Regions from separate parts of the Homo sapiens genome. Here region 1 is linked to region 2. The links come from fine-mapping of genetic effects on gene expression. A gene starts in region 2. The other region holds a variant in brackets. All regions are shown on one strand. Distances are from middle to middle.

The links.
Region 1: its variant is fine-mapped to the expression of EIF3H in whole blood (TOPMed, PIP above 0.99).

What each region holds. Positions count from the first base shown.
Region 1 is chr8:116,796,907-116,813,619 of GRCh38, reverse strand. All of the region lies in intron 2 of LOC112268030 (a long non-coding RNA gene), which reads right to left. Among named protein-coding and RNA genes, the nearest start is that of UTP23, 39 kb to the right of the region's middle. The variant G/T (reference allele first, on the strand shown) is at 10,572.
Region 2 is chr8:116,748,859-116,765,571 of GRCh38, reverse strand. EIF3H (eukaryotic translation initiation factor 3 subunit H) reads left to right here and starts at 9,749. Exons shown (of 8, transcript NM_003756.3): 1 at 9,749-9,906. The coding sequence starts at 9,775.

The DNA of each region.
Region 1 (16,713 bases), 48 kb before region 2:
CATGGCATTCAAAATAGAGCAAAGAGATAGTCATAAACACATGGGTGATCTCTTAGCCAAGTGGAGATCAGTACATATGTCGAATTTACATACACATGCACACATGCATTTATACATGTAAAAAGTATAAAACTGCATTCCTAGATTAAAAGGACTTGTACAAGTCAACAAGCTGTCTGCACCATGGACAGTGGTGCCTTATTTACATGGCAACCTGAAAATTAGCAAACGAACACCCAGGATGATTTTCTATGCTCCCTGCAGCATCAGCATGTGACAACCACTTAGGTCACTAAAATCAGAAACCTAGAAGTCCCTCTGAATTCCACTCTTTTTTTTTTAAACACTGCCAAGTCTCAGGAATTACCATGAATTAAGTAATTTAATCATAAAATTAGGATTTAGAATCCTAAAATGTAATCCTTAATTTTTTTTTTTTTTTTTTTTTTTTAGGCATGCGGTCTTGCTCTGTCGCCCAGGTGATGTGCAGTGGTGCGATCATAGCTCACTGCAGCCTCATGAGCTATCCTCCTGCCTCAGCCTTCTGAGTAGCTGGAACCAGAGGTGTGAGCCACCATGCCAGCCTCATTTTTTTTATTTTTTGTAGAGACTGGGTCTTGCTATGTTGTTCAGGCTGGTCTCGAACTCCTGGTCTCAAAAGATCCTCCTGCCTCAGCCTCCCAAGTGCTAGGATTACAGGCTTGAGCCACCATGTCAGGCCTCCACGTCTTCTAATGCTCCTCATCTCATGCCACAGTTCACATTCTATAGATCTGTAGACTCTATCTCCTACGTTTCTCTTGAATCTATCCCTTCTCCGTTCTCAACACCACTGTTTTTAGTTCAAGCACTGATTTCCTTTTAGACAACTGGACTTGACTCCTAACCTTTCTCCCTGACAATACTACTGCCCACCACATCCCCCAAAAATCCATTTGCCATATTGCCATTGAAAACCCTTTCTAAAACACAAACCTTACAATGCTGAGCCTTTGCATAAAGTCCAACATCTTTGAAGTTCAAATTCCTTTTTTAAAGTACGTATGTTCCTTTGTAATCTGACCTTTTCATCTCTGTCCACTCCCAGAATGTAACCACACCTGCACTGGCAGATGCTGTTTTTTCTGGAAAACAGCTGGAAATCCCTTTCTTTGCTCCATATCCTCCCCCTTAGCTTCCACCTCCTGTAGCTTTCATTCAGAAAACCCCTACTCAATTGTTAAGGCTCAGCTCAAACATCATCTCTTCCAGGAAGTCTTCTGTGATTCCCCAGATGAAGTTAGATGCCCTCACCTCTATGCCTATAACAGCCAAATCATAACTTCCCCCTTATACTAGTGTGTATATATATATATATACACACACAGAAATATATATATATACACAGAAATATATATACACAGAAATATATATGTATATATATACACAGAAATATATATATGTATATGTACACACAGAAATATATATATACATATATATAATATATATATATATACATATATATATAATATATATATACATATATATAATATATATACGTATATATATAATATATATATACGTATATATATATTATATATATACACATATATATATATATAATATATATATATATATACACACACACACAGAAATATATTTGAGATGGAGTTTTGCTCTTGTTGCCCAGGCTGGAGTGCAATGGCGCGATCTCGGCTCACCACAACCTTCGCCTCCTGGGTTCAAGCAATTCTCCTGCCACGCCCAGTCAGGAATGTGAGCTCTTACGAGTCAAAGACAGTCTCTTTTGTTTCTGTATCCCAACACCTGTCACAGAGCCTGGCAAAACGTGAGTGCACAATGTTTGTTAAATGTATTAATGCACAGGCAAATAAATGCATAAACCACACAGGTCTCCAGAGTTTCCTTTCCAATCAGCATAACCTAAGCCTGCTGTTAGAGGGAGCGCTCACCTGATGCAAATCAAGTCTAGCTGGAAGATGCCAATAGAAACAAACCAGATCCCAAGAGACCAAGAGGTGCATTGCTTGCATGTGTCATCAACATAAATAAAAATATTAATATGTGGCCGGGCGCAGTGTCTCACGCCTGTAATCCCAGCACTTGGGAGGCCGAGGCAGGTGGATCACGAGGTCAGGAGATCAAGACCATCCTGGCCAACATGGTGAAACCCCGTCTCTACTAAAAATACAAAAATTAGCTGGGCGTGATGGTGGGCGCCTGTAATCCCAGCTGAGGCAAGAGAATCACTTGAATGAAGGAGTCAGAAGTTGCACTGAGCAGAGATGGCATCACTGCACTCCAGCCTGGTGACAGAGTGAGACTTCGTCTCAAAAAAAAAAAAAAAAAAAAAAAAAAAAGTGAACTCCCAATTTTAATTTGGGAAAAAAGAGCTTCTTTTTTTTTTTTTTTTTGCAGGATGCCTATTTAGTCCTATTTCTTCATCAACGGGAACTTGGAAAAGCTGTGATTTTATGTGTGGCCTAAAAAGGGCAGAAATTCCACTCAGTTGAGGGTTTATAGAGAATTTATTTTCACAACCGCTCCCAGAACTTTCACGTTCACTACATCAACACCTGTGGGGTGGGTATTAGGCTCATCACCAGGATAAGGAAATGAAGGCATGGAGGGCTTCAACAAATCCATGATGGAGCAGACCCTGTGGTCTTATATTATTAGGTCAGTGTGATACTGGGCCAGACATGTCCAGTTATGTCACTAAAGCTCCAGAATGACAGGCTGTCTCATGCAAAAAATACCCCGAGATGGGACCTCATTTCCTGAAAGACTCCTCGGTACCTCTGCCAAATACACTCTCACTCACTTTAACACTTGAGCAGGCTGTGGAAACGGCTGAGTTGTTCCATCCCATTCACCTCATTGAACACTTAGTGTGTTCCCTGAGAGCCTGCTGTGCACAGGGCATAATGTGATTTCTGTAAACAGAGAAGAGTGTGGTGGACCCTGACAGACATAGATGATGCACCAAAGACCATGAAAAATTCCTGGTAACATTGCTGGACTCAGTAGAGATGGTGTTCTTGAGGAGATATTTAAGGATAAGGGAAATTTTAAGAATTAAAAAACGAGGATGTTTATAGTGCTTTGATGATCATATTAGAAGTAAAATAAAAAAGTTTTTAAAATAAAAATGTTTTGGCCAGGTGCAATGGGTCATGCCTGTAATCCCAACACTCTGGGAGGCCAAGACAGGCAGATCACTGGAACTCAGGCATTCAAGACCAGCCTGGGCAACATGGCAAAATCCCATTTGTATAAACAATACAAAAATTAGCTGGGTGTGGTGGCACGCCCCTGTGGTCCCACCTACTCGGGAGGCTGAGGTGAGAGGATTGCTTGAACCTGGAAAATCAAGGCTGCAGTGAGCCATAATCACACCACTGCACTGCAGCCTAAGCGACAGAGCAAGATCCTGTCATTAAAAAAAAAAAAAAATCAAATTAAAATGAAAGAAACTAAAGTTTGTATTAGAAGTAAAAAGCTACTAAGGGTTAAAATGTTCCTGGAAGTGGGAAGCAGAGAAATCAAACATACGCATTTCGTGTTTGTAATGTTTTTCTCTCCTTTGCTTTCCTACCAGGACCACCCAGACTCATCCATCCTTAAAATGTGGGATTTCAACTTCCAAGACAAATCAACCAAGTTTCGTGGTTGATTTTAAAAACAATATTTCCTGAATTGCTACTTCACCAATGTGGTGTATTAAATCATAATCACTGTCAATGGCCAGAACCCCAAGCCTGGAATAGCAATGCCAGCTCCAGCCTGGGAGCACTGCCTTTGAAGGATTTTAGGTTCTCAGGAGATTTGGTTTCCCTGCAGTGTGGTGTTGGCTTCCAAACCAGGAGGCAGCTGGCAGTGCCACTGCTGCCCAGGAACTAGAAATCCACCATGAAATCTGAGGGACTCTGCGGCAGAGGGTTTTATTCTTTATGGTGTCTTAATATTGATCAAAAAACCCACTTCTTTTTGACATGATAAAGAAAACCCATCCTTCCAGCAAAAGGGCTGAGTAGTAGAAGAAACAGATCAAAAGACACGGTAAAAGGCAACTTCAGTTCTGTCCTCCCAGAGAGCCAGGGACCTGCTCTGAGCACCAAAATCCTTCATTTATTCATTCAATAAAATTTGTTGAGCAAGCTGGGTGCAGTGGCATGCACCTGTAGTCCCAGTTATTTGGTATGCTAAGGCGAGAAGATGGTTTAAGCCCAGGAGTTTGAGTTCAGCCTGGGCAACATAGCAAGAACTCATCTCTTTACAAAAAATAAAATAAAATAAAACATGTTTAAGCCTCTGCAACAACTTGGGCCCTGTACTAAGTCTTGGAAACACAAAGGTGTCTAAAACATGGTGAGTGCCCTGAAGACTCACAGCCTATGAGTGAAGAAAGATTGGAAAGAGATTGAGTACAATATAATCTGCAGGGTGTGACAGCAGAGGACTGAACCAAAGTGATGGAGACAAAGAGGGGGAAGTGACTTATTATTAGCTGCCATTGTTACCAGGTTTGAGACAGCAGGACTGTCTCTACTTTCCTGAAACCACCTGTGAAGACAGGATTTTGAGACAGCAGGACTGTCTCTACCCTCCCGAGGCTACCCGTGAAGACAGGATAATGAGCAGTTAGATCTCACAGTTCACACTAACTCAGAAAACAAGCCAGTCAGAATTAGCAAGAAGTTTGCATTGAGAATATTTCCTAGGCAATTTCTTTTTCTAACTCGTGAATACGTACAATGATTCAAACAACTTGCCAGAACTGATTTTCAGCAGAAATTGTTTCGGTACAACGTTTGATGGGCACAGGAGGTTCTGGGAATGGTGAAAATTTCTCACTATATTATTATATCTAGTTTTAGTTATCATATCAGCTTCTTAATCTCAGCACTGAGTAACCCGATGTTCCTCAACCAGTCCAGCATGTGACTATATGCTGGGTTAACCTGAGTCTCTTTTAGATAATACAATACTGATTGATGTTCAGGCTATATCCAGACCATTTGGATCAGAATCTCTGGAGAATGGATAGGCATTGATCATATTTTAAAAGTTCCCCCAAGTTATTCTAATCTGCAGCCAGGGTTGAGAACATACATGCAATTTTCATTCATTAATGTATTTATTTTTGAGATAGGGTCTTGCTGTTGCCCAGGCTGGAGAGCAGTGGCATGATCATAGCTCATTGCAGCCTCAATCTCCAGGGATCAAGTGATCCTTCTGCCTCAGTAGCTGGGCCTCCAGGCAGGTGCCACCATGCCTGGTTAATTTTTAAAAACTTTTTTGTAGAGATGGGGTCTTCCTATGTTGTCTAGGCTGGTCTCGAACTTCTTGCCTCAAACAATCCTCCCACCTCGGCCTCGTAGGTGTGAGCCACTGCACCTGGTGCAGTTTTTAACAATTCATATGTAGTAATCCTTTGCAAATGTTTACTTCTTGGATTGTTGGTGTATTGTAGATTGAATATGACCCAGGATCATATAAGTTTCTTGGTGAATAGTCAAAAGTTTCTAACTGCTTGTCATCAGCTCTGATCGATTTAACACTGATACTGAGAAGCCCAAAATAATATCTTTAGTTTACTATATTATGAAAATTTATAAGCATCACACATGTAAATGTCACAGAAACCCAAAGTACAAATTGTAGCTGTAAGTTTGGCTCCCAAAGGAGGAAGAAGGAAGTTCATATTTATTGGCCTTTTTTTGTGAGCTAAGCACTTTATGTATAATATCTTTTTTAATGGGCAGATTAATCTACCATAGCATTTTTGAAATATTAAGTTATGAAACCACTTTAATGGGTCACAACCAGTATTTCTAAATAAAATGTGATGGAAAAAGAAGCATTAAAAAATATAAGTGCATCAAATTCAGCTATGGGACACACTACTTTATAAAAGCTTTGTTTCAGTTATATAAGTGTGGTTGTATGTATCTAGCATATTACATTGTAATATTAGATATTTCTTAGCTTGCTGCTAAAATATTTGAAAACTACCACCTATAGATACAGTTATTACTAAATCCAATTTATAGATGGATAAACTGAGGCTCAGAGATCTTAAATAATCTACTCAGTGAGCAAATGACAGAACCCCTTTTATTTACCATTTTAATATACCACATTCTCTCCTGGAGAAGGCAAGCCTTACTGATGAATAAATTAAAGACATCTGCAGAGAGGAGACACACACAAATTAATTATTACTGTTTTTTAATAACGCTACTTTTTTGTTTTTTGTTTTTGTTTTTGAGACAGTCTCACTCTGTTGCCCAGGCTGGAGTGCAGTGGCGCACTCTCGCCTCACTGCAACCTCCGTCTCCCGGGTTCAAATGATTTCCCTGCCTCAGCCTCCCAAGTAGCTGGGACCACAGGCATGCACCGCCATGCCCAGCTAATTTTTTATAGATGGGGTTTCACCATGTTGCCCAGGCTGGTCTTGAACTCCTGAGCTCAAATGATCCTCCCACCTCGACCTCCCAAAGTGCTGGGATTACAGATGTGAGCCACCACGCCCGGCCAATAACACTAGTTTAATGACAGTATTGCAACTTCCTAATTTTATTGTTGAGACAACATTTTCCAGACTCACTGATTTATTAACTGTCATAACCCTAGCCACAGTTTGAACTCCAGCTTAAGTTTTCTTTTCACTTTCATCACTTCTCAGCTTGGTAGGAACTCATATGCTGTGGGTTCCCTTCATTGTGATTTCTTCCCTTTGTTATTCCAGACACATCATTTCACAAAGAGGAGCCAGGCCCCCTTCTTGGCTCCCGCCAGCTCCGTGCAAGGTGCAGCCTCCCCAGGGCTAAACCGGCCAGCCCAGGACTCACCTGACTGTCTTGACAGACCCTTATGGCAGAGTGGCTGAGTGGACAGATTTGCACACAAGCATTGCACCTGGACAAACAGGACTCAAACTTGTCTGCTCCAAGGGCAATATTGCTCCACAGGATCATTTTACTGGCTGCATCCTCAGCCATCCAACAGAGAAATTCCTTCTCAACTCAGTGTCTGTAAACCCCAAGAATGCCTCTTGTGAGCAAGACAGACCACAGTGGTTTTGACAATTTGGAAAGACCATTAAAGTGAAAGGTTAGTGATTTTATGTGTGTTTTGTCTTAAGCCTCCTGTTTCTTCAAGACCAACTTTTTTTTTTTAAACTGTGGCTGAGCAGAGCTCTAATCCTGTCCACAAAATCTTTTCTGTCTAATGAGAAACGATCAAGCAAAAGCACCCAAACCCACAAAGTTGGAGGGAAAACCCTCCACCCATATACTCACAGGCCAACAAAGTTTTCATGTGAGAGTAGTTATTGTGGTGGGATCTGAGGAGACTCTTCGAATGAATGAGGAGGTGCACAAAAAGAAGGGGCTATGGTAGAACAGCTCTGCGAGCAGAACTCCCTCTAATTGAGTTGAACTAACAGCCCTGGCTGCTGGGATACTGGGGAGAAGTCCCATTGTCCTCTACTCTGAAGAGGAGCTAGTGACTATCAGTCTTGCCCTCTCTGGGGAAACACTGACTTTGATTAAGGGGAGACAGGACCAGCTACATAATTGTGGGCCAGCACCAAAAAGAAAAAAGAAAAAAAATGTGTGGCCTCTTGTTGAAAAGTGGTGACGGCATGTGATGGTTAATATTGTCAACTTGATCGGATTGAAGGATGCAAAGTATTGTTTTTAGGTGTGTCTGTGAGGGTGTTGCCAGAGGAGATTAACATTTGAGTCAGTGGACTGGGAGAGAAAGACCCACCCTCAATGTGGGTGGGCACCATCCAATCGGCTACTAGCGCTGCTAGAAAAGGCAGGTGGAAGAAGGTGGAATAAGCTGGCTTGTGAGTCTTCTGGCCTTTATCTTTCTCCCATGCTGGATGCTTCCTGCCCTTAACATCAGACACCAGGGCAGGAGTCTTAGACTTACACCAGTGGTTTGCCAGGGGTTCTCTGGCCTTCAGCCACAGACTGAAGGCTGTAATGTCAGCTTCCTCGATTTCAAGGCTTTTGAACTCAGACTAAGCCCCTACTGGCTTCCTTGCTCCCCAGCTTGCAGAGAGCCTATCGTGGGACTTCACCTTGTGATTGTGTGAGTCAATTCTCCTTAACAAACTCCCTTCCATATATACACACGTCGTATTAATCCCTAATACATAGCAGAACATAAAACCCAGCATGTGACCCTGTAAGCCTGCACAAGCCACACACCCATGAAGCCTGCCCCGAGAGGACACAGCATTTTTAGGACCCACACGGGCCCTGTCACCTGGAAGTAGAGTCATTAAACAAAATGAACGCTCCTTCTAATCCCATCCCCTGTAACCATGTGTGCACATTTTTACATAGACACTCTGATTACCGTGTTCCGATATGGTTATATAACTAACATTTAACTAGAATTTACTATATACCAGGCCCTGGACTAATTATTTTACATGCGTTATCTCATTTAATCTTGACAAAAACCCTAGGAAGTGAGAACTCCCGTCATTCCCATTTTGCAGATGAGGAATTTGAGGCTAGGGAGGATACCTTATTTGCCCCATATTTATTTGCTAGAACGAGGCACTCAGCCTGAGTAGGGATGAAATTGAGAGGAGGCAGGAGAGGAACTAGCCATGGGAGAAAAATTTAAGAAGCTGCAAAAAAAAAAAAAAAAACCCTCAGTAATTAAGATAGATACTACTTCAGCGCAATGCTTTAATTAAACAATTTACTTTGAGATTATTGTAGATTCACATGCAATTGTGAGAAATAATACTCCAGGCACCCTTTATGCAGTTTCTTCCAGTAGTAACATACCATATAGTACAATATCACAACTAGGTCATTTGTATTAGTACAGTCAAGATACAGAACATTTCCATCCCATCCACACAAAGATCCCTCATGTTGCCCTTTTATAAATACCCCCAACATTGCTCCCCATACCGCACTTCCCTTCCACCTATGGTCCAAAAGATCCCTAGAGCTCTACCTCCTATCTGGTGTATTAGAAGGTGTAGTCGTCCATTTTCACACTGCTATAAAGAACTGCCTGAGACTGGATAATTTAGGTAGAAAGAAAAAGGTTTAATTGACTCACAGTTCTGCTTGGCTGGAGAGGCCTCAGGAAACTTACAATTGTGGCAGAAGGCAAAGGGGAAGTAAGGACCTTCTTCACGTGGAGGCAAGACAGCGAGCAATGAGGTGAACTGCCAAACACTTTTAAACCATCAGATCTCGTGAGAACTCAGTCACTATCATGAGAACAGCATGAGGGAAACCGCCCCCATGATCTAATCACCTCCTACCAGGTCCCTCCCTCAACACGTGGGGATTACAATTAGAGATGAGATTTAGGTGAGGACAAAGAGCCAAGCCATATCAGAAGGAAAATGCGATGATTTCCATTCTCTGAAACATATCATTGTACCTCTAATGTTATTTCTACTTCTGGTAATGAGACTTATATTTGTTTTACAAGAAAAGCCATTGGAAAACGTTTTGTTAATATGTCAGAGTGACTGTCGCTGTTCCTTAAATCCTTCTCTAGCACCACAGAACCCAGATATAGAGGAATCTATGCCCTTTTTTACTCTGTGACAGTAAGACATATCTGATACCAAGGTCCGTATTTCCTAGTCATATACATGTTACCAATTATTTTATCTGAAGAATATTTTAAAATCATTCTTCTGCAAATTTGCTTAGTGTTTCCTCTACGTGTTACTCAAGGTTGTTTCCCTGGCTAGCAACAGTGTGAAAACTACGTGCTTCTTAAGAGGATGGGAGGGCTGGACACGGTGGCTCACGCCTGTAATCCCAGCACTTTGGGAGGTCGAGGCAGGTGGATCACCTGAGGTCAGGAGTTCAAGAACAGCCTGGCCAACATGGTGAAACCCTGCCTCTACTAAAAATACGAAAAAAAAATCAGCCGGGCTTTCTGGCGGGCACCTGTAATTCCAGCTACTTGGGCGGCTGAGGCAGGAGAATTGCTTGAACCCGGGAGGCAGACGTTGCAGTGAGCCAAGATCGTGCCATTGCACTCCAGCCTGGGTAACAGAGCAAGACTCTGTCTCAACAACAACAACAACAACAAAAAGGTAGGAATCACAACAGTCCCAGATGTAAGTCCCTGCAGGTGATGTTTGTAGAATGGAAAAGAAGCCTCATAGGTAATCAACAAAATGATACCAGATTGTGCTGGCTTCACCCTTGTCCACCCATTTAATTGCAAACACATGGAAGGACAAATCAGCTGACTCTCTGGGGTGAACCAGGCAGGGACAGAGCCTAAACCAGAGAGATACCAGATTTACTTGGCAAGACCATATTTTCCTGAGGTGCTTCAGACAACTTACAGATGACACAGCTGCAGGTCTTGGCTATTCAGATTTAGCTGCCTCATGGTGCAAGAAACTGCTGTGCAGAGGCAATGATCATTTTTATGAGTATGGTTCTCAAAAATCTGTGAAACTATTTGTTTTTGCTCTGTCTTGCTAAACCGCCCTTACCTGTTCCTCTCCTACAACTATAAACCTTGATTGCTGGTCAGTCAACACAGGCTTT[G/T]TCCACATCCACAAAAATCTAAAGACAGAACTAAGGCAATTACTAGAACGGTGCTTCACAAACATCCATGGGCATTCAAGCTGCCTGGGATATTGTTACGATGCAGGCTGTGATTCACTATGTCCTGAGTGGAGCCTGAGTTCCGCATTTCTAACAAGCTGCCAGGCATTGCTGATAGGGACAAGGACCCAGCTCACCAAGACCTGCAATTGAACTCCCTGAGATTAGATTCAGGCCATGATGAAAGAAACTGGGGTTTTTCTTTCTTTCTTTTTTTTTTAAGGGGCTTGGATTGACTTAGTTAAACAAAGGGCTTGTGGTCAGCTAGTGCCTCTCTAGTGGATGAGATCATAACATGTGAGAGGGCATGAAAAGGACATGAAGATGAAGTTTGTCCTGGCACTATTAGAATCCATGGTTGCAGTGGCCCCTGAAGCCCTGCTGAATCCCATGGAGTCTGGTTGTTAACAGTGCATTGGATTGCCAGAGCCAATAACTTCCTTGCTTTGCTTAAGCAGGTTGAATTGGACTCTATCTCTTAGAACCATGATTGCTCCAACGATTGCGTCCAAATTGTGATGCAATGACTTCATAAATTATCATATATCCCTACAGAAGAATTATACAGCTGTCAAAAAGTATTATTTCAAAAAACTTATTCGGATGGACAAATAATACAAGGGTAAATGACAAAGGCATAACATCAATGTATCTATACAGAATAATCTGAATTATATAAATTCGAGAAGAATATTAAGTAAATGCTCCAAAACATAGACAGTAGTTAAGGTCGACTGAATAACCCCCTCCAATATCTCCATATCCTAATCCCTTGAACATATGAATTTTATTTTATATGGCAAAAGAGACTTTGCTGATGTCATTAAATTAAGGACGTTGAGATGGAGAGATTATCCTGGATTACCTGGGTTGGCCCAATATGATCAGACTGGTCTTTATAATAACTCAGGAGAAGGCTCAAGCCTGTAATCCCAGCATTTTGGGAGGCTGAGGCGGGCGGATCATGAGGTCAGGAGATCAAGACCATCCTGGCTAACACAGTGAAACCCCGTTTCTACTAAAAATACAAGAAAAATTAGCCAGGCATGGTGGCAGGCACCTGTAGTCCCAGCTGCTCGGGAGGCTGAGGCAGGAGAATGGCTGAACCCGGGAGGTGGAGCTTGCAGTGAGCCGAGACTGCGCCACTGCACTCTAGCCTGGGCGACAGAGCAAGACTCCGTCTCAAAAAACAAAAAAAAAAAAGAAAACTCAGGAGAAGGCAGAGTTAGAGGAAAAGGGGATATGATGCCAGAAGCAAAATTGAAGATGAGGGAAGGAGGTTACAAAGAAATGTGGGTAGCCCCCAGCAACAAAAAGGCAAGGAAACAGGTTTTCCCTAGGGCCTCTAAAAGGAATGAGCCCTGCCCACACCTTGACTTCAGCCTGGGAAAGTCAATTCAGAATTCTGATCTCCAGAAGAATAAACTTGTGTTATTTAAAGCCATTAAATTTGTGTTAATTTGTTATAGCAGCAATAGGAAACTAACACAATAATTGGCTCTGTACTTCCACTTAATCAACATATGCTACTTTTATAAGAAAAAGGCAACTTAATTTAAAGGAAGGAATAAGTATAGCTTGCTATAAGAGGTATTATGAATAACACTTTTAACAGTTGAATGTAGCTTGGTTGCTGTTGTTTTCTAGGACTGTAGGATATAATCACAGTGTAGTCTAATTTCAACACAGCAAGAGAATGTCACCCTTTAATAATAGAATTCTGATCTCATCACTCCCTTGGGTAAACTCTTGGCTTCTGCTATTAATATCCAACAGGTGACTTAGCAATGTGTATTCACAAGATCAACACCTTTTGATAATTAAAAGGCCCAGTGGCACACTCAAATCACAGAGCACACTGAAGGCAGAACAAGCTCCTGACTCTATTTTGAATTCTCCTTTCTCCTCTCAGTATATTCCCAGCATGGTGGCTTTGGAATCACCAAAAACAAAAGGAAAGTGACATGACTGCTATTTGCCCTAGGAAGTCTAGTGTAATACTAAAAATCTTAAAACTCTAAATGCTGCTCATGAAGCAAACACACAAGGCTGCAGAATCCTGTTGTAACATTCCCAACCCCAGATGGGGTTCCCTGGCCCCACCTCTGAACCCTCAGAGTTGTCTGTGTACATTTTTATCCCATCCTATCATAATTATTTGTTTATGCACCCACTTTCCCAGCTAGACCTTTGGTTTCCTCTAGCGTAGGGGCTGTGTCTTATTCTTCTTTGATTTTCCACCCTAAAACAGTGTCTGGCATAGAGAAGGCATTTAATAAATGTTTGTTGAATTAAATTCAATTGACTCCTGGCCTTAGCAACAGAACTTTAGAGCTCTTACCCAACATAATAAGAATTCAACTTTCTTGATTTTATCTTCAAAGTACTTTGCTAAAGTGGAACGACATGACGTCTTGACCAACTCTTCCCCCAGGCTTTCGGCAAACATGAGATTTCTTCTCGGAAAGACCTGTCAATCTCTGTTCAACTTGGGTTTAGATTTCAAAGGTTAAAATTCGGACAGTGCCCTGGAACTCCAAAAGCATCTACGATGAGTGAGAGCCCCATTCAAGTCCCCTAGTTTCTCTTCCCTAGGTTTGATTCAATCCAGGCCAATATTGGTTAATGCCAGCTCTATCCCTTCCTCCTTAGGATGTTTTGCTAAATGTGTGTGGAGATGTAAAAATGCTATGGAATTCTTGATTCCTTAGGATCTTCTCAAGAAGCTTCTAAAGTGGCTGTATAGAGTTCCTTTAGCATGCCATACTATATAAGCATTTTGGCTTTGAAGTCATATTGATCTGGGTTTAAATTCCAACTGTAACTTTGGTAGCTATGAGACATGTGGTGTGTTATTTTATCTATCTGAACTTCAGTTCCCTTATTTAAAAACTGATGATAAAGTATCTACCTATTGAGATTGTTGTATACTTATATAAATTTGTGTAACATAGAAGGATTCCTGTACATAGAAAGTGCTCAAGAAGTAATGGCTGTTACTATTATGAATAATAATAATTATCCCACACAAGAGTCTCCAGAGAGAATAAGGCCCAATGCTGTATATGCCAAACTACCCTAGATTTAGATTTGGAAGACAGATCGTCCCTGGTATTTTTGCTTTTATATAGCCCCATCTACAGTGAGACCATAAGGAAAAATATGCTCTTCTTAGTCAATAGAACTTCCACCACCAAAGAGAGAAGACTCATCACTAATAAACAAATAACTCAAATATTCCCATTTGGACTAACCTTGTACATATCCATGCAGTTTTTCCTCTTCTTTGGAAATTAACCCATGATTGACCTCTTACCTCCACCCATTCATTTCCAAATATCACTAATATTTTAGGATTGAAGTCTCAAAACACCACAGTTGAGAAACTTCTGTTTTTAACCAAGATGGAATAACAGGGACTAGATTTACTCACCCAGCTGAAATAACAGCAGTATATATAAAATAAGGGTTTTCAAGATATTGAACATCAGCAACAAAGATATGTTTCCTGAGAAGTAAAAAGAAATGAAATGACTTCTACAGTTGCTGTAACTTTCTGCCTAGAGAGAGTTTCCAGGCTACAGAGCATGGAAGGGGAGCCCATCAAACTTCCTGAGACAAAGTTGGAAGTCCAGAGAGATAAGCTGGCTCGTGTTCCCAGGACAGAGTACCAGAGATGAGTGAGCTGCGGAGAGAGAGAACTTGGGAGATCTGCAGAGGGTGCCTGAGTTTTCAGCTGAGTACTGATCAGCTTATATGTAAGGAAACTACCTAAGGATAGGAAAAGAACCATTTGAAAGCATTATAAGGGGCAACACTTGGAATTCAAACAGAGCCCCCCCCACCAAAAAAAATTCCTGTTCCTACCAGCCAGAATGAAGAATATCACAATTTACAGAATGTTGGGTAGGTGCTCCAAAAAAGTGAGGCAGAATTAGCCTCAGACTTAACACAACTGTGATCTCACCTAATAACGTTTAACAGCAAACCTAAAATGATATTGTTTCCAAGTAACTTAACTGCCTAAAAAAATCTCAATATCTATAGGAATAGAAAAGTGTAGCCACCCTACAAGGTACAATTTTCAATGTCTGGCATTTAATTAAAACTTCTAGTCATGCAAATAAACAGGAAAATATAATGAGGAGAAAAACCAGTCGATGGAAACAGACCCATAAATGACACAGATATAGAATTAGTAGAGAAAAACACAAAAACACTTATTGTAATGTATTCCATTGTTCAAGAGCCAGAGAAAAGATGGAGCACATTCAATAAAGACAATGCAAAATTTTTAAAGACCCCAATCAATCATCTAGAAATGAAAACTATAATGTCTGAAATAAAAAAACACAAAGACAAACAATTGAATAAAATTAATAGCTAACTGAACATTGCAAAAGACAAGATTAATAAACTTGAAGGTATAGCAACAGAAATGATCCAAAATGAAACACAAATAGAAAAAACACTGAAAAAAAATAGAGCATCATTGAGCTGTGGGACAATTTCAGGAAACCCAATGTATGTGCCACTGGAGTCCAGCAAAGAAAGGACAGAAGCAGAAAAAAACACGTGAAGAAATAATAGTGGAAAACTTTTCTAATTTGATGAAAACTATAAACTCACAAACCCTAGGCTCAACTAATTCCAAGCTTAAGAAACATGAACAAAACTATACAAGGGTACATTATAATCAAATTGCATCTAACCAGTAATAAAGAAAAAAAAAACCTTAAAAGCATCCAGATGAACAAGACACATTAAATATAGAGGAACAAAAAAAAGAAGACAGAGGTTACATATTGGAAACAATACAAAGCTAGAAGAACGTGAAGCAAAATCTTTAAAATCCTAAAAGATAAAAACTATCACCCTAGAATTCTATACCTAATAAAAATTTGTTTAAAAAATGAAGGGGAACTAGAAATCAGTAACAGGAGAAATGTAGGAAAAATTGAAACTAAAATTAAACAACATGCTCCTGAACAAACAATGGGTCAAAAGAAAAATGAAAAGGAAAAATTTTAAATATCTTTAGAGAAACAAGAATGGAAACAAAACACACCAGAACTTATGGAATATAGCAAAAGCAGTTTTGAGGGGAAATTTATAGCAATAAATGACTTATTAAAAAAAAGAAGAAAGATCTCAAATAAACAGACTAAGGTTACCTCAAGAAACCAGAAAAAGAAAAGCCAGCTAAGCCCAAAGTTAGTAGAAGGAAGAAAATAACAAAGATCAGAGCAGAAATAAACAAAATAGAGACTAGAAAAAAATAGATCAATTTAACTAATAGTTGGTTTTTTGAAAAGAGAAACAAAATGGATAAATCTTTAGCTAGGCTAACTAAAAAAGAGAGAACTCAAGTAACTAAAATTAGAAGTGAAAGAGGGACATTACAACTGATACTGCAGAAAAACAAAAGATCATAAGAAACTACTGTGAACAATTATAAGTCAAAAGACTGGATAGCCTAGAATAAATTGTTAAATTCCCAGAGACATTCAACTTACCAAGACTAAATCATAAAGAAATAGAAAATCTGAATAGATCAATCATGAGTAAGGAGATTTAATCAGTTATATAAAATTTCCCATCACAGATGAGCCCAGGACCAGACGGTTTCATGGCTGAATTCTACAAAACATTTAAAGAATGACTAATACCAGCTGGGCATGGAGGTTCATGTCAGTAATCCCAGGACTTTGGGAGGCCGAGGCCGGTGGATTACCTGAGGTCAGGAGTTCGTGACCAGTCTTACCATCATGGTGAAACCTTGTCTCTACTAAAAATACAGAATTAGCCAGGCATGGTGGCACATGTCTGTAATCCCAGCTACTTGGGAGGCTGAGGCAGGAGAATCACTTTAACCCGGGAGGTGGAGGTTGCCAAGATCATGCCATTGCACCCCAGGCTGGGCAACAGAGTGAAACTCCATCTTGAAAAAAAAAAAAAAAAAAAAAGAATAACTAATACCAATCCTTCTCAAACTCTTTCAAGAAAACTGAAGAAGAAGGAATACTTTCAGATTTCAGACTAATTTTACAAGGCCAGCATTACCCTGATACAAAAGCCAGAT
Region 2 (16,713 bases):
AATGAATCAGAAAATTTCAAGTTCTCCCGTGGCTAACTGTCGAGTATCCACTTCAAGGTAAAATAATCAAAGAATGGGGAGTATGGAATTTTGCATTTTTGTCCTTGCCTGGAATCTGTCCCAGATCTAGTTTTGGCTAAAGATTGAAAGAACCAGCACAGAAAATGATTTACAACGTGATTGAATGCATTGTTTGCATTTGGGGTTTTATTTCAATATGTAGGTTTATGAAATTGGAATAAGATCTATAATGTTAGCCCTGATCTGAGTCCCAGCACATCACTTAGATGGTTGCTTTCATTTAAACTTAAAATGAATTTAGGAATTGGAAGCCATGAAAACTTTTGCAGGGTTGGATTCAAGGTCTTTGAGTGTAATTGCTCAGTACTTTTCAATTTGAATCCTCTTTTTATCCCTGTATGCCAACTCTCTACTCCAACTATGCGCCCACCACAGACAGAGAAACGAGATACCACCTGAGTCTTGCAAAACAGTTAAAACATTTTTTCTTAAATAGCCTCAGATTTATCTACCAGCTCCTTGGCCACTTTTCAGTACTAAGAAAAATGTGGTGCAGCACTAGGGATTTTAGTCTTATCTTAGTTTTTGTTGTCGTTTTTTAATTTACCAAGCTACAGCACATTTTTTCCCCAAGCTCTATGTATATGACAGTGCCAGTTTGCACCCTATCTTTATTATGAAAACATGAAGATGGTCTATAATGGTGATTATCAAGTTTAAAACAAAGTTTTCGGCCGGGCATGGTGGCTCATGCCTGTAATACCAGAACTTCGGGAGCCCGAGGCGGGAGGATCACTTGAGCCCAGGAGTTGGAAACCAGCCTGGGCAAAATAGGGAGCCCCTGTCTCTGCTAAATTAAAAGAAGACAAAAAGAGAAAAAAATAGAGTTTTCTATTACAGCAGTGTTTCTCAAAACAAGGTCCTGGGATATGCAGAAAAAGCTCTTAGTGTGCTTGTTTAAAATGCCCATTTCTGATTCAGAATAAGTATTGAGGGAGAGGGGTACTATTCAAAGAGGAAGTGACATTTATTACAATCTCCCCAAATCATTATTATGCTCATTAGTGTTCCTGAAGGACCTTTTTTGTAATAAAGCATCGTTTATCCAATAAGATATTTTTATTAATTGGTCCACTTAATACACTTTTGTTTAGATGCCAAATGATCTGTAATGGAAAATCAATATTTAGCCACAACCAAGGCAGAAGCCAAATACTGCCATTATTGAGTGAACCATTTGGATATAAATTTAAATCTGAAATTTTATTTTGAAAGTTATGTCATTATTAAAATATTTAATATTCATTGAAATTTTTTTGACCTTATACTGAAGGAACAATAATTTATAACAGCATTGCTAGTTTTTAGCTTTTTTCTCAGGTCAGTCCACTGGACATTTTCCATGCCAAATAGAAATCCACATTCAGCTGGAGTAAGTAGGCGATTAATTTATTTTTCTTTATTTTTTATGTTCTTCATTTTATTATGTCTGGATCAAATATAGTTTTATAATATTATGCTGTTGTACATGATTTTGAAGTTTTTTTCTTCATGAAATTTTGATGAAGCCAAGTTGACATGAGAATAATTTATTTTTGAAACGTATGACTAATTCCCAAATAGGACTTTCTCATGAAAGATTCATGGCCTAAATGGAATTAAAGAGGTAAACATTAAATATAATTCATAAAGGTTACTTTGTTGAATTTCATCAATGTTAGTATAATTTTGTTTAATTTCGTAAATGTTAGACAATTTAGCTAACATATCTATTGTGGTATTATTCTTCCTTATATTCATATCTAAATATTTATAAACATTTGTTAACATTCATTAGCTCAAAAACAATTTCTACCTAACATTATCTAACATACTGCCTAAATAAATAATTTAGCTAAATAAATATTTTACGACAACTTAGGTAAAGCACTTTGTATTGAGGTCCTATGAGGTTCTTCGCTAAGATCCCCTAGGATAGGCTCCATCATGGAATGCCTTACTGTGAAATTTCAAATATGTCAGAAGGTGTTACAAAGGTCAGATATGGAGGCTGTCACTTTTTAAAATAATCTTTAAAATAAAATAAAATAACAAAAACTTTATGTATTTCAAATTACAAAAATAACATATGCCTCTTAAAACAAGTGGAAGAACATGAAGATAGTAATTTCTTCTCCCCTTGCCCAGATAACACTTTGATGATGTATTATGTATCTCTTGGCAATGTTTCCATATTTACATATTGATATATCATATGCATATATATACAATTTAATATTTATGTAGAGATACTCTGTTATGCGAAATTGAATCATATTTAACAATTCTATACATTTTGCTTTTCTCACCTAACAATCCTGTAGAAATCCCTACACACATCTACCCAAAGTCAATTGGCAGAGTTCTCATTCATTATTTTTAATGGCTGCATGACATTTCTCACAAAACCACCAAATATAACATAATAGATATGACACAGACTATGAATTTTCACCCAATATCTCTTCTCTTCTTTGTAGGAATAGACTCCTGATTTTATTCTGGAGTGTAATGTGCCCAGATAAGCAAATCCATTCCCCAGAATTCTTTTTTTTTCCTTTTCTTTTTGAGACGGAGTCTCGCTCTGTTGCCTATGGTGGAGTGCAGTGGCACAATCTTGGCTCACTGCAGCCTCCACCTCCTGGGTTCAAGCGATTCTCCTGCCTCAGCCTTCTAAGTAGCTGGGATTACAGGCATAGGCCACCATGCCCGGCTAATTTTTGTATATTTAAGTAGGGACCGGGTTTCACTATGCTGGCCAGGCTGGCCAGGCTGGTCTCGAACTCCTGACCTCAAATGGTCCGCTCACCTTGGCCTCCCAAAGTGCTGGGATTACAGGCGTGAGCCACAGCAGCCAGCCCATTCCCCAGCATTCTGTGCAGTTAGGTAGAACCACAGGATTAAGTTCTAGCCAAAGATATGTAAGTGTAAGTGTTGCATGGAATTCTGGGAAGCCGGCTTAAAGGAAGTCAACTTAGCTTGGCAGTGGGCACTTTTGTGTTTTATATCTCCTTCCTTCCTACTCCCTGGAATTTGGATGTGATAGCTTTAACTCCAGCAACCGATTTTAGACCATGAGGTAATTTTGAGAATGGAGGTCATTCACTTAACACTGGCAAAGCAGATAAGAGGAGCTTGGATCGCTCGCAACTGTGAAAGTGTCTTTCCAAACATAGACTTTCTACTTCTGGATTTCTTTTACATGAGAAGAAAAATAAACTTCTACCTTGGTTTTAAAAAAAAGTTATCATAAGTTTATTTTATATGTAGCCAAACTCAATGCTAAATGATAGAGGAAGTTAAAACTACTTGCCAGAATTAGATAATTTTATATGAACAAATATGTTTGATGAGACCTTGATGTTAGCTGATGTCAGTCAATACAATTGCCCTTCCTTTGAACAGGTTCAAAATACTAGTTTATATGTTTCCTCTAAAAGGTGGAAAGTCTTCCAAGTTAAATAAACCAAATCTTTCTTTACATACTATAGAAACTGTCTTGACATTTGTTTCTCTTGAAAGTATAAACAATTTGATTTGAATTTGGTGTGTCAGTGGGATATATCTCCTGTTGAGAAAAGTTAGTTAAATATGAAGAGCCCCAGCTGCTTGGGTAAGGAACATCAAGGAAATGTTAGTGTCATCCAGTTGTCAGTTAAAGAAAGCAAGCGGAATTCATGTATATAGGTCCTGCCAGTATCAGTGAGCTCTTCTTTCAGGTCAAATGACAAAGGAGAAGCTGTCTCTTAGAAAAAGATTTCAAGAGATTTCTGTTTCTCGAGGATATTTCTAAACTAGACAGTAAACAGGAAGTGCCCATCATCAGTTATCAGATGACTATTGTCGGATCACTATAAAATTAGACTAGCAAGTTTGCTTTCTGTAATAATTTATTTGGATGAAATCATACTTAGAACAAATACTACCATGTTAGGTAAATTGAAAGAAATTTATTATTTCTCTAACAGATGTATGTATGTATGTATGTATTTATTTTTTTGAGACAGAGTCTCACTCTGTTGCCCAGGCTGGAGTGCAGTGGTGCAATCTCGCCTCACTGCAACCTCTGCCTCCCGGGTTCACGCGATTCTCTTGCCTCAGCCTCCTGAGTAGCTGGGATTACAGGTGCCCACCACCACGCCTGGCTGATTTTTGTATTTTTAGTAGAAACAGGTTTTCACCATGTTGTCCAGGCTGGTCTCAAACTCCTGACCTCAAGAGATCTGCCCACCTTGGCCTCCTAAAGTGCTGGGATTACAGGTGTGAGCCACCTCACCCAGCCCGTCTCTAACAGATTTAAATAGTGCTCTCCATTGGCATTTTACTACAAAATGTTTAATGGCATTAATTTAAATGGTGAAAATAAAAACTGGTAGAGCAGAGCAAAAAGTTAAGAAATAGTACCAGTGGCAAACATGTTTTACTGTAATGCAAAGCAAACTGCCATTTGAAATTTAATTATTATTCAAACTGATAGAGAAGTTCACACTAAATGGGTCTTTCATTTTAATCTATCAAAGCACTTTAGAAGATTAATGAATCTTTATAAAATTACTCTAGGTAACCAAATATTATTACTGTTACTTAAAGAAGTTTAAAGATTGGAAATTATGTCAGATTACAGCTTTAAAAGGATTTTCTAAAAAACACTATTTATATTTAACAAAATGTTGAAGCCAACTCTTTCACTCATGGTTTTGTATATATTTTTAAGCAGCAGGAGGACTCAGGGCAGAAACTGAACTCCTGGTGGCAAGAAATTAAACATGCTTTCAATAATCCAGTAGAATATTATTTCAAAGTCTAGTATTTATAATTGAATTACACCAATATGAAGTATTAATTACATGATATTATACAAAATAAAAGTCACTCTTACAATCCTCTCAAATTTTTTTTTACTGCAAGATTACTTTGTTTAAATATTAGTTGGTAAGTGATGAATCAAAATACTGGGATGAAAAGTCCAATGTCATTTTAAAAATTATTATTATTTTAGCAAACATACAGAAAATGACCACATGCTAATTCTTATGTGTAAATGAATATTATTTTCTTTTTATTGGCTCCAACTTTATACTCTCTGTAGTTTCTTTCATAACACTGAACAAATTACCTAGCTCTTCAAAGTATAACCTCCCATAGTCTTATTTCACATTTGTAGACAAAAGGAGGCCTATGACTTAAATTGATCTCAATGAGGCTAATGAGCAAGATCTTTTTTCTATGACTGGGGGAGAGGTTTCCTTAAAATAAACAAAACAAAAAGTGTATTGTTTCAATTGCTACTGTGAGCTTGAGATTATAGTGGTAGCCAGTCTTTGGTCAGAACCCAAACATGGCAGGAGACAGAGTCCAGAGAGTCATGAAGTAATGAAACTGTAGTCTTTATGCTGCTTCACTTGGAGTATGCCCTTCTCTAGACATCCAGATCCATGATAGCATATATTTCCCTCTTGTTTAAAATAATTTAAATTGGCAGGCTGAGCATGGTGGCTCGCACCCATAATCCTAGCCCTTTGGGAAACCAAGGTAGGAGGATCACTTGAGCCCAGGAGTTCGAGGCCAGCCTGAGCAACATTGTGGAACTGGTTATCTACAAAAAGTACAAAAATTATTCAAGTGTGGTGCTGTGTGCCTGGAGTCCCAGCTACTCGAGAGGCTGAGGTGGGAAGTTCACCTGAGCCTGGGGAGGTTGAGGCTGCTGTGAGCTGAGATCGTGCCATTACACTCCAGCCTGGGCAACAAAGTAAGACACGGCAAGCATGTGCGTGTGTGCGCGCGCACACGCACACACACACATACACAAACACACCCCACACATCTTTTGGCTCATCTGAATATAGAACGAGCCAGGTGAACCCCGAAATGTATACTCTCTGTTGTAAGTTAGCACTCTCTATCGTAATAAAATGACATTTAACAACATTTAGGGGCTCATCTTTGGTGTCCTGACTCATTTTACTGCATTGAAAGGGGTTTAAGTGTCTTAGCCAAGTGAGGGAAAGCAGCTCCAATACTGGGTAGTTCTGAGGCATGGAATGGTCACAGCCTGACTTTTACTGGGCAGTGTTTTTCTAGTGGGTAGAGTTATTATGCCACAAAAGCTGAACTAGTTAGACTGTTTATTTTTTATTTGCTCACTCAGGTGTGACAGGCTATCCTCTGCTTCCTGTCCCCAGGCAGTAATCACACATGGGCAGCGCCCACAGCTTAGTTTGGAAGGCCCTCATCAGCCTCTCTCTTTTTGCCTGTAACTAAATTAGAAATATTTCCAGCAATTGGAGAAGTATGCTAAAAACATTAGTTTCTGTGACAAAGAGAATGAAGAACATCTTGTTGCGAATACAAGATAAATTTATTTCATACAATAAATAAATATCCACAATGAAATTAATACCCACAATATTGAACTTCCTTATGGGAGGCCAGAAAGACAACTTAATGGTTGTGACCAACCATCTTTAAGTGATTAAATACATTCAGTTTCTGCTACAATCTGTTATTTACTTTCTTATGCATACTTCAGGTTTATTTTGTTCTTTTTTGTCTAGGATGTTAGAGAGCTTAGATGATGGATTTGACACATTTCCTTTTTCTAATGTAGGCAGTTAGCTATAAACTTCTTTCTCAGCACTGATGTATCTGTGCCCCACACATTTTAATATTTTATATTTTCATATTCATCTAGTTCAATTTGTGTGTATGTTTTAAAATTTTCCTGGAGACTTCCTCTTTGATCTGTGGATTAATATTATTAGAAGTATGTTGTTTAGTTTCCAAATATTCAGAAAATTTTGTTATCCTATGTTTTAATTCCTTCTTTAAATCTATTGTGATTTGAGAACATACTATGAATAATTTCAACTCAGAAATTATTTAATTTGTTGAGGTTTAAACTTGCTGAGGTTTGTTTATGGTTCAGGATATGACCTGTATATTCCATGGACACTTCAAAAAAGTGTGTATTTTCTACTTTGAGTGTTCCATAAATGCTGATTTGATCCTGTTGGTTGATGGTATTGTTGAGTTCCTTATATCCTATTGATTTTCTCCATAGTTGTTTTATCCATTGTTGAGAGAGGGAGTTGACATCTCCAACTATAATTATGGATTTGCCCATTTTTTCCTTTCAGCTCTATGAGATTTTTCTTCACATAGGTTCTGATTTCTGTTGGGGCATACACATTGAGAATTCTCATGTGTTCTTTGTGATTGATCATTTTATCATTATTTGATGTCTCCTTCTGTCTCTGATTATTTTCTTTTCTCTGAATTTTGCCTTATTTGATATTAATATAGCCACTCCTGCTTTCTTTTGATTAGTGGTTACATGATATATTTTTCCATCGTTTTACTTTCTTTGTACTTATATTACTATGTTTGAAGTGAGTTTCTTATAGATAGCCTATGGATAGATCATGTTTTTATCCGTTTATTCATTCATCCAATTGTTTTCCTTTAATTGGTATATTTAAAACATTTATATTGGCTAGGTGCGGTGGCTCACGCCTATAATCCCAGCACTTTGGGAAGCTGAGGCGGGCGGATCACCTGAGGTGAGGCGTTCGAAACCAGCCTGGCCAACATGGCAAAACCCCGTCTTTACTAAAAATACAAAAATTAGCTGGACAGGGTGGTGGGTGCCTGAAATCCTAGCTACTCAAGAGGCTGAGGCGAGAGAATCGCTTGAACCTGGGAGGCGGAGGTTGCAGTGAGCCAAGATCACACCATTGCACTCCAGCCTGGGTGACACAGGGAGACTCTGTCTCAAAAAAAAAAAAAAAATTAACATAACTATTAATATATTTGGGCTTAAGATTGCCATTTAAGTTATTTTTTATTCATTCTCTCTGTTTTCATTTCTCTCTTTTCTTTTTCTTCATTCTTCTGGGTTATTTGAACATTTTAAATAATATATTGATTTATTTACATTATTTTGAGTGTATCTCTTTGTAAAGCTTGGATGAGGTCACCATAAAAGAGAACAAAAATAGGGGAAAGAAGATGTTCAAAGTCTAAATTTGGTGCTCTTCAATATTTAAAGGTTGAAAAGGGGTAGAAAAATCAGCAATGGGAACTGAGAATAAAGGAGGTAGCCAGTGAGATAGGAATGAAATTAGGAACCGAAGTGACGGAAATGTCAATGCTTCTGGGCCCTTTCTTGTCAAGGTGATCATATTGATTTCTAATTCAAATTCTTCATATTCTCTGGCCCTCTCTCTCTCTCTCTCTCAGTTGTACCTCTTACATCTAGTGTATTTCATAAAGAGGGCCCACATGAACTGTCTCAGGACAGATGAAAATAACCCATTGTAGTATGTTTAGCACACGTGGCTGCAAAACCTTAGTTGGATATTTTCAAGGACAAAAAAATTGCAAAATATTTTAAACTTTACTTTGTAGTTTTACTGCTATGAGGATATTGGTATTGTAATTCTGAAACAAAACTGTGTTATGTATGTTGTAGGATAAAGCAATAAATAAATGTATTATTGTTTATAAGTAGCCTCACTGTTTTCTAATGCTCATCATTCCAGCTACCTAGTGGTAGGCAAAAACCTCCAGTCTGGTTCTTCCATGCGAGATTTTCTTTCTTCTTTTTGTGAATGTTCTGTTACCAATTTCTAGTGTAATTTTACCAGGATCAACCTTTAAAACCTCTAAATTTGTGGACTTTCTGTGTGACCTAGGGTTTGGTGTATTTTAATAAATATTTCATATACACTTGAAATGAGTGGATATTAACTTTTCATTTTGTAGTGTTAAGAATTTGTAACATGTAACTATTTCTCCTCCCAGATTGAAATATAACACCAGATCCCAATGACAAAACAACAAAAAACTTCAGGGCAGGATATGCCGTTTATTGATTTAATTATTTCATCAGTTCTGTATACATATTTATTGAATAAACATTTCAAAAATAAGGGATAGGAAAAAAGTCATTTGGAAGTAGAAAAGAATGTTTCAAATTACTTATCTAAAATGGCTTCTTACAGTTGTCATATATTCTTTTAAGGACTTGAGATGTGTATTTCAGAGTAATGTGTCATAAATCAGCGTGATTTTTAGAAAATATATTCTGTATCATCCTTCAACAATACCTCAGATAACTTCTTTGGTACTTTACTCAGGTAAATCTCTACATGAAGCTAATAGCAAAAGGCTACTATTTCTGGTAATTCTGATAAAAGTTTCTATGTCTTAATTTCTATATAATCTAAGTGGTTACAAGCAGCTATCTAAAATTACGTAAAACAAGCTGTGCAATACTGGCTCATCGCTAATTAACAGAATAATGTCGGACAAATCACTTATCAGTTTTCTAATATGCATAATGCGAGTTAGTACAGCACTTCATTGCAAGATCAGAAATGAAAGCATTTTTACATAAGAGACACTACAGAAATAATGCGAACTGTAATGCTATTATGACGGTTTGCCTAGTGGTGAATGATTAAACATTTAAAAAGTTTACTTTCATCTTAGATCATTCCATCGGAAAGAGGTCGAAAATGTACAGTAGGCATGCACAAAGGATACCGCCTGGAAAGAAGGTAAAACTGGAAAACAGGAGGGAGGCGGGGCCCAATTTTGGCTTCTCCTTCCGTCTCCGCCCCTCGAACGCCGGCCTGCGAGTGACGTCACGCGAGACTTGTACTTCCGCTTCCGGTAACTCACGTTTCTCTTTCTTCCTGTCTGCTTGGAAAGATGGCGTCCCGCAAGGAAGGTACCGGCTCTACTGCCACCTCTTCCAGCTCCACCGCCGGCGCAGCAGGGAAAGGCAAAGGCAAAGGCGGCTCGGGAGATTCAGCCGTGAAGCAAGTGCAGATAGATGGCCTTGTGAGTGCTGTTCTTTTTCCTCTGGCCCACGTGGGGAGCGCAGTTCCCAGCCCCGTCCCACCAGACGTACTTTCTAGCATTCTCCCCCTTGGGCTTGGTGTGGCTGGGCCAAAGTTTTTCCCTAGTACGTTTCTCTTTCATCTTCACTTTTTGTTCAGGAGCTTCGACAGCCTTCTCTTGTCTTCTAACGGGACAGTTGGGGCTTCAGGAAGGGGACTGAGAATAGGGGTGTGAGTGACAGGTTCCTGGGGTCTTGTTTTGAGATGACCGGTGGGGGGATTTGAAGAAAGACTCCTGGAGACCAGCAGCTAACGAAGGTGTCGAGAAGGATTTAGGGACCTAGTAGGGCTCTGGGAAGGAGAGAGTAAGGAAACTCCACTGATTCCCTGCTGGGATCTGACATCTATAACGTTCCAAGTGGAGATGTACTTTGTAGCCACTCTTTTGAGCCTGTACTTCGGCGCTTTATCTGAAACCGTATAATTTAGAATACTCTTTTGTAGTGTTCATTCTGAAAAACATAAAAGAATATCAAAGAGAAGGGCCTTAAATGTATTTAGTAGTTAAGGTTCATGAACTAGGACATCCAAGGAAATTCTTGATAAGGAAATGGACTTAGCTGGGAAGAGGAAAATCTAGAATGAGAAATTTTATTTCTGTTGTTTCGAAGCAAAATGCATTTATATGACGTTCTAGTTTTAAAAGTATCCTTCCTGCCCTCTTTTTAAAAAGCATCCTCTCTTCCTTTGATTTTTTTAAAGGTTATTTCCTATTAATGCAGATCTTAGATATTTGTAATAAGAAAGTACTTTTAAATTCATGTGAAAATTGTAATTGCAAGCAGGTATTTTTAAGTGGAAACTGTTGATAATTTAAACGCAGCATATAATTGAATCTGTTGAACTGACTTAGTTAAACTGGATACAAGAGTGTAGCCTGGTGGTTAAGAGCTCATTCAGTCTTCTAGGCTCTTCCACTTAACCAGCTCTGTGACTTTAAGGCAAGTTAGCCTTTCCAGGCTTTGCTTTCCTCATCTGTCAAGTGGGAATGAGAAGTATCTGTATCATAGAGTTGTTTGGATTAAATGAAAAAGTTTATGTGGTGACCTGTAGTACAGTGTAATCACTTAATGTTAATTATGATTATTATTATGAGTTTAATGTCTGTGGTTAGCAGAGTTTGAAAGATGCAGGCAAGAGATTAACTTTGGAATGTTTTGTTCTAAATGTCACTTGTGTAATACTTTGAAAATGCAGGCCGGGCGTGGTGGCTCACGGCTGTAATCCCAGCACTTTGGGAGGCCGAGGCGGGCGGATCAGGAGGTCAGGAGTTCGAGACCAGCCTGACCAACATGGTGAAACCCCGTCTCTACTAAAAACACAAAATTAGCCGGGCATGTTGGCACGCGCCTGTAATCTCAGCTACTCAGGAGGCTGAGGCGGGAGAATCGCTTGAACCTGGGAGGCGGAGGTTGCAGTGAGCCGAGATTGTGCCACTGCACTCCAGCCTGGGCAATAGAGCGAGCCTCCGTCCAAAAAAAAAAAAGAAAATGGAGTACTATCTGGCCTGTGTACTGGCACTGTGGCTTTCCCTGGCTCATGGGAGGCAGATGTGTGTTCAGGAATAAATGACGTATCTTTAGAGATTGCAAATCTCTAAAGTTAGTGGGTGGACTTAGATTACACTTGTTAAAATAAGTACCACTTATGCACTTGGGAAATGTTTATTTCTTAGAAACATATTTCTTATTAAATTTGCTATGTCACAACAGCACTCTTTGAATCACTTAGTTTCCAGAGTTGAAAAAGGCAACAGGTCGGTGGCATAAATCTATTTGGAGATCATTTATTTAGCAAATATTTTAGGACATTCTGTTAAGTGCCAAATACTATCTAACACAGGGCAGTGGTAAAAGCACTTCAGTAACAATGTCCTGGCAGCTTTAAGAGGGATTGTTGAATTAAACAGAGACCTGCAGGTGGAGATGGACTGGATCACTTCAGGTTTCACAAGGGTGCTTAGTCAAGAGACTGGTTCTCAATTTTTTGGACTCAGAAATTATTATTTTTTATCAGCTCTCTCAGAATTGATTAATGCTAAGGAACCAATTAGTCCTTCTCACAGGAGATTGGTTTATATACATGTAAATGTTGATTTACTCATTTACTGTGGAAGACATACCTTTTCAGTGGTGAAAACGCTCATATCTACCACCAAAAAGACCCTTTTGATTACCAAAGCACCTTGGAAATCGAATAAAAAAAATCAGAAGCTTACCAGTGACTCCAAAATCAATCATAATAAGAGCAGGTAAAGGATTATTTTACTTGAGAGTTATTTATATCCAGATTCTTGACGAACTTAGTGAATTATCTCTTATTCACGGTGGTGGGTACCTCTGTGCTTTTGTTCTCCATCGGTTGGGTAGATATTAACAAAATAAGTTCCTAACAACTTTCCCCCTTTTTGGACATCTGCCTTTCTGTCATTTATATGGTTTTAGGCAGCTAGATTATATTGCAGTTGCAAGGTTCTTTTATCTTGGTTGCTCATTTTTTAATGGTGAATGTTTTCCAGTTACCATAAATCATGTAGGGAACATTTAAATGGTATGTTCTTTATGCGTTTTACATTGTTAATACAGGGAATACTGGTTACTCTAAATTTTATTAATGGATTATTGCAGATGGAGTAACCAAGAATCATCCATCTTGAATACTATCTCCACATGGATGATAGGTATACCCACGTTTGCCCAGATACAATTTAAAAAAAACTCCTTCCTTAAACTCTTCTCTTCTCTCTCTCTTTTTTCTTTTCTTTTCTCTCTCTCTTTCCTTCCTTCCTTCCTTCCTTCCTTCCTTCCTTCCCTCCCTCCCTCCCTCCCTCCCTCCCTCCCTCCCTCCCTCCCTCTTTCTTTCTTTCTTTCTCTTCTTTCTTTCTTTCTTTCTTTCTTTCTTTCTTTCTTTCTTTCTTTCTTTCTTTCTTTCTTTCTTTCTTCATTTCTGTCTTGATGAACAGTGTTACTCTTAGGAAAGCAATATTACATACTAGCCAAGAGAATCTTGACGACAGACTTGGATTCAGATCCTTATTCCAGCAGTAAGCATGACCTTGGGGAAGTTATTAAATTTTCTAGGCCTCAGGTGTATCCTTTGTAAAATGGGGATGATGATAAAGTAGTAACTCATAAGGGTTGTGAGAATGAAATTCCGAGGTATTTAAAGTGTTTAGTATAGTACCTGTGTCATCGTAAACACTCAGATTACTGTGTCTTTACCACTCTCATCCTTATTAATGTTTCTCAAATCATTTCGAATGCTAACTTTGCTAATGTAGATTGGAATTGTAGAAAGAGCACTTCAGTGCTCCTGGTAATCAGGAGACATGCATTCCAGTCTGCATCCACCAGTAACTAACAACACTTCTATGATTGTTTTACTCCAAAGGTACATTTTCTCATCCACAAAATGATTGCCACTATCCCTATCAATTTTCATGGTTTATGGTTTCTTTCTTTTGCTTTCATACCTGAATCCTGAGGGTTCTTATTGGTGTGTGACCCCAGTCAATCACTATCCTTCCTTTTAGGCCACTTACTCCTTTCCTTTTATGTTTCTTCTCCATCTGTGCATATTGGAGTGCCTCATGGTTTAGGTTTTGGCTTTTCTTTTAGTCTCTGCTTGACATAGGTAGTGTAACGAAGTTGATAAAAGTACATGCTCTGGAGCCAGACTGCTTGGATTTGAATCCCAGCTCTGAAATTTGCTGCATGACATTGGGCAAGTCTTTGTGCCTCATTTTCCTCATCTGAATTGTTTTGAGACTTTAAATGGATTGAATATATGTCAATAACTAGAACAATGTCTGGGACAGAATAAGTCACCATTTAAGCTTTGCTGCTGCTTTATTTGCAGTAATTATAGTAGTATTCTTTAAGGTATTCTTATCTGTGCTCACGGCTTTAAATATTTATATTCTAATAAGTCCTAGATTTATATTTCTGCCAGTAATGGCTCTTGAATGCCTCTTTTGAATACCCATTGCCTGTTTGACGTCACTATTTGGATATCTCATAGGCATCTCATATTTAACATGTACAAAATAGAATTATAGACTTGTTCTTCTCCTTACTTTCCATCACAGCACCCTATATTTCTAGAATTTTCCACAGCCTGTAACTATCTTGTTTGTTTTCTTCTTTGTTTTCCTCATCAGAATGTATGCTACTGAGGGCAGGGACTATGCTTTTTCACCTGTTTTATCTCCAGTGCTGAACCTGTTAATTCACAAAGTAGGATAAATGAATGAGTATGTATTCCATTTTATTATTTATACTAATTTATGTTCTAATATCTTATGCAGGTTATTTTAATATTGTTTTCCCCTGCCTTCTTCAGTCTACCATTCATACTTTTATTTTATTTTATTTTATTTTATTTTATTTTTTTTTTGAGACGGAGTCTCGCTCTGTCGCCCAGGCTGGAGTGCAGTGGCGCAATCTCGGCTCACTGCAAGCTCCGCCTCCCGGGTTCACGCCATTCTCCTGCCTCAGCCTCCCAAGTAGCTGGGACTACAGGCGCCTGCCACTACGCCCGGCTAATTTTTTGTATTTTTAGTAGAGACGGGGTTTCACCGTTTTAGCCGGGATGGTCTCGATCTCCTGACCTCGTGATCCGCCCGCCTCGGCCTCCCAAAGTGCTGGGATTACAGGCGTGAGCCACCGTGCCCGGCCTCATACTTTTATTAAAACGTTTATTTAACGTGAACATTCAGATTTTAACTTCTTTCCTTAGATGTTTTCAGTGACTTTCCATTGAATTGAAGGACCAAAATGTTGTCCTTGTTTCTTGCATTTATGTTCAGGTTTATTTCCTTTCTTTCCAAGCTTTGTAGGAACTGTACATTCCAGCCCCTCAGACTACTTAGTTTTTTCTTTAATAAGTCATGCTAAAGGCCAGGTGTGGTGGCTCACGCCTGTAATCCCAGCACTTTGGGAGGCCAAGGCAGGCAGATCACACGAGGTCAGGAGATCAAGACCGTCCTGGCTAACATGGTGAAACCCTGTCTCTACTAAAAATACAAAAAATTAGTCGGGCGTGGTGGCGGGTGCCTGTAGTCCCAGCTACTCAGGAGGCTGAGGCAGGGGAATGGCATGAACCGGGGAGGCGGAGCTTGCAGTGAGCCGAGATTGCACCACTGCACTCCAGATTGGGCGACAGAGCGAGACTCCGTCTCAGAAAAAAAAAAAAAAAAAAAAAAGTCATGCTAAAGACAGACCTAGAGTCACATCCTTATTCAAAGCAGTAAGCATGACCTTGCTTTTGTTCATGAAGTTCTTTCTCTTTGAAATTGTTCTCTTTCATCATCACATATTGAATAAAAAATGTGACTTAATCGACTTACTCTGTTTTTTTAAAAATTCTCCATATAGTTTAACTTGAATCTGTATACTCCAGATGTATTCTGTTCTTCATTCATTTAACAAATATTTATTGATTGCCGACCACATGCCAGGTCTAGCCCTGCTACATGCTGGGGTATATTGCAGTAACCTATATAAGATATTATATAGGTGAGCAAGGTAGAACCCAGTCCCGACTCTCATGACCATTCTCAGTCATATATAGATGTAGATGAACCCAGAGATTAATCTCATCCTATGTTTAGCCTGATGTTTTAACACATTTGTTCCTTCCTGGCACATTGATAGTGGCCAAGACCAATTTTTCTTGTATTTTTGAACCCTTCCTTTCCTACCTTTAGACCTGTTTCATCACTTCCTCTGTATCTGTAATGTAGCAGTCCCTCCACAGGGCTTGTTTTCCAAAGAAAAGTAAGCCCTCCACAGGGCTTGTTTTCCAAAGAAAAGTATCATTTGGAGGAGCAAAGTTATAAGCCTACCTAAGCATGTCGTAAAGCTGTTCAAAAATAACTCAGAGCTAGTCTTGTGGATGGAAATGTAGTGCCTGAGTCACATTCTGCTTAAAGTTGTAACAAATACAGATGAGTTAAAAGAAAAAAAACAAAAATAAAGAAAGAATGGGTCTTCATTCTGTCAGGTGGTCTCATTGTTCCTAGACAAGATCAAGCTAATTCTTCCCGTTAAACTTTTCATGTTGAACCCACTTTGTTCCCTAGAACATTTGAATTTTACCTTTCTTATGTTCATTAGACCTTGCTATTCAAAGTATGATCCATGTCCAGTAAGATGAGCAATGTTGGCTACACTTGAGTTTGTTAGAAATGCAGACATACGTATCACAGAATCTCAGGCCCCTCTCCTGACCTACACAATCAGGTGATTTATAGCATTTTACTGTTTGAGAAGAAGCTTGCTCTCTTCCTTTCTCTGAGCTTTTTAATGACAGCTTGTATCATTCACCTTGGTATGTGATCCATACTGTTAGTGATTTACTGTTAATATATTTTCCCCTTCTCATTGAGATGATAACCCTTTTGAAGGCTGAAGTATAAAACATTTGTCTCCTCCATAATTCAGTGCTTGAAACCCATTGCTATTGAAATTTCTTACCTTTTAAATTTTGTTTTCCCCTTTAAGTTATCTTATTAGATACCTTATTCCCCTGGTTTTGTAAGTAAGGTAGAGTATGTTATTAATAAATAGAAAAGTATGAGTTACATATACAGTCAGCTCTCTATATCTTTGGATTCTGAATCCAGCAATCTCACATCCATGGATTCAACCAACCATGGATCGAAAATACTAGGAAAAAAACAACTAAAAATACAAATAAAAACCAATACAGTATAATAATTATTTACATAGCATTTACATTGTATTAA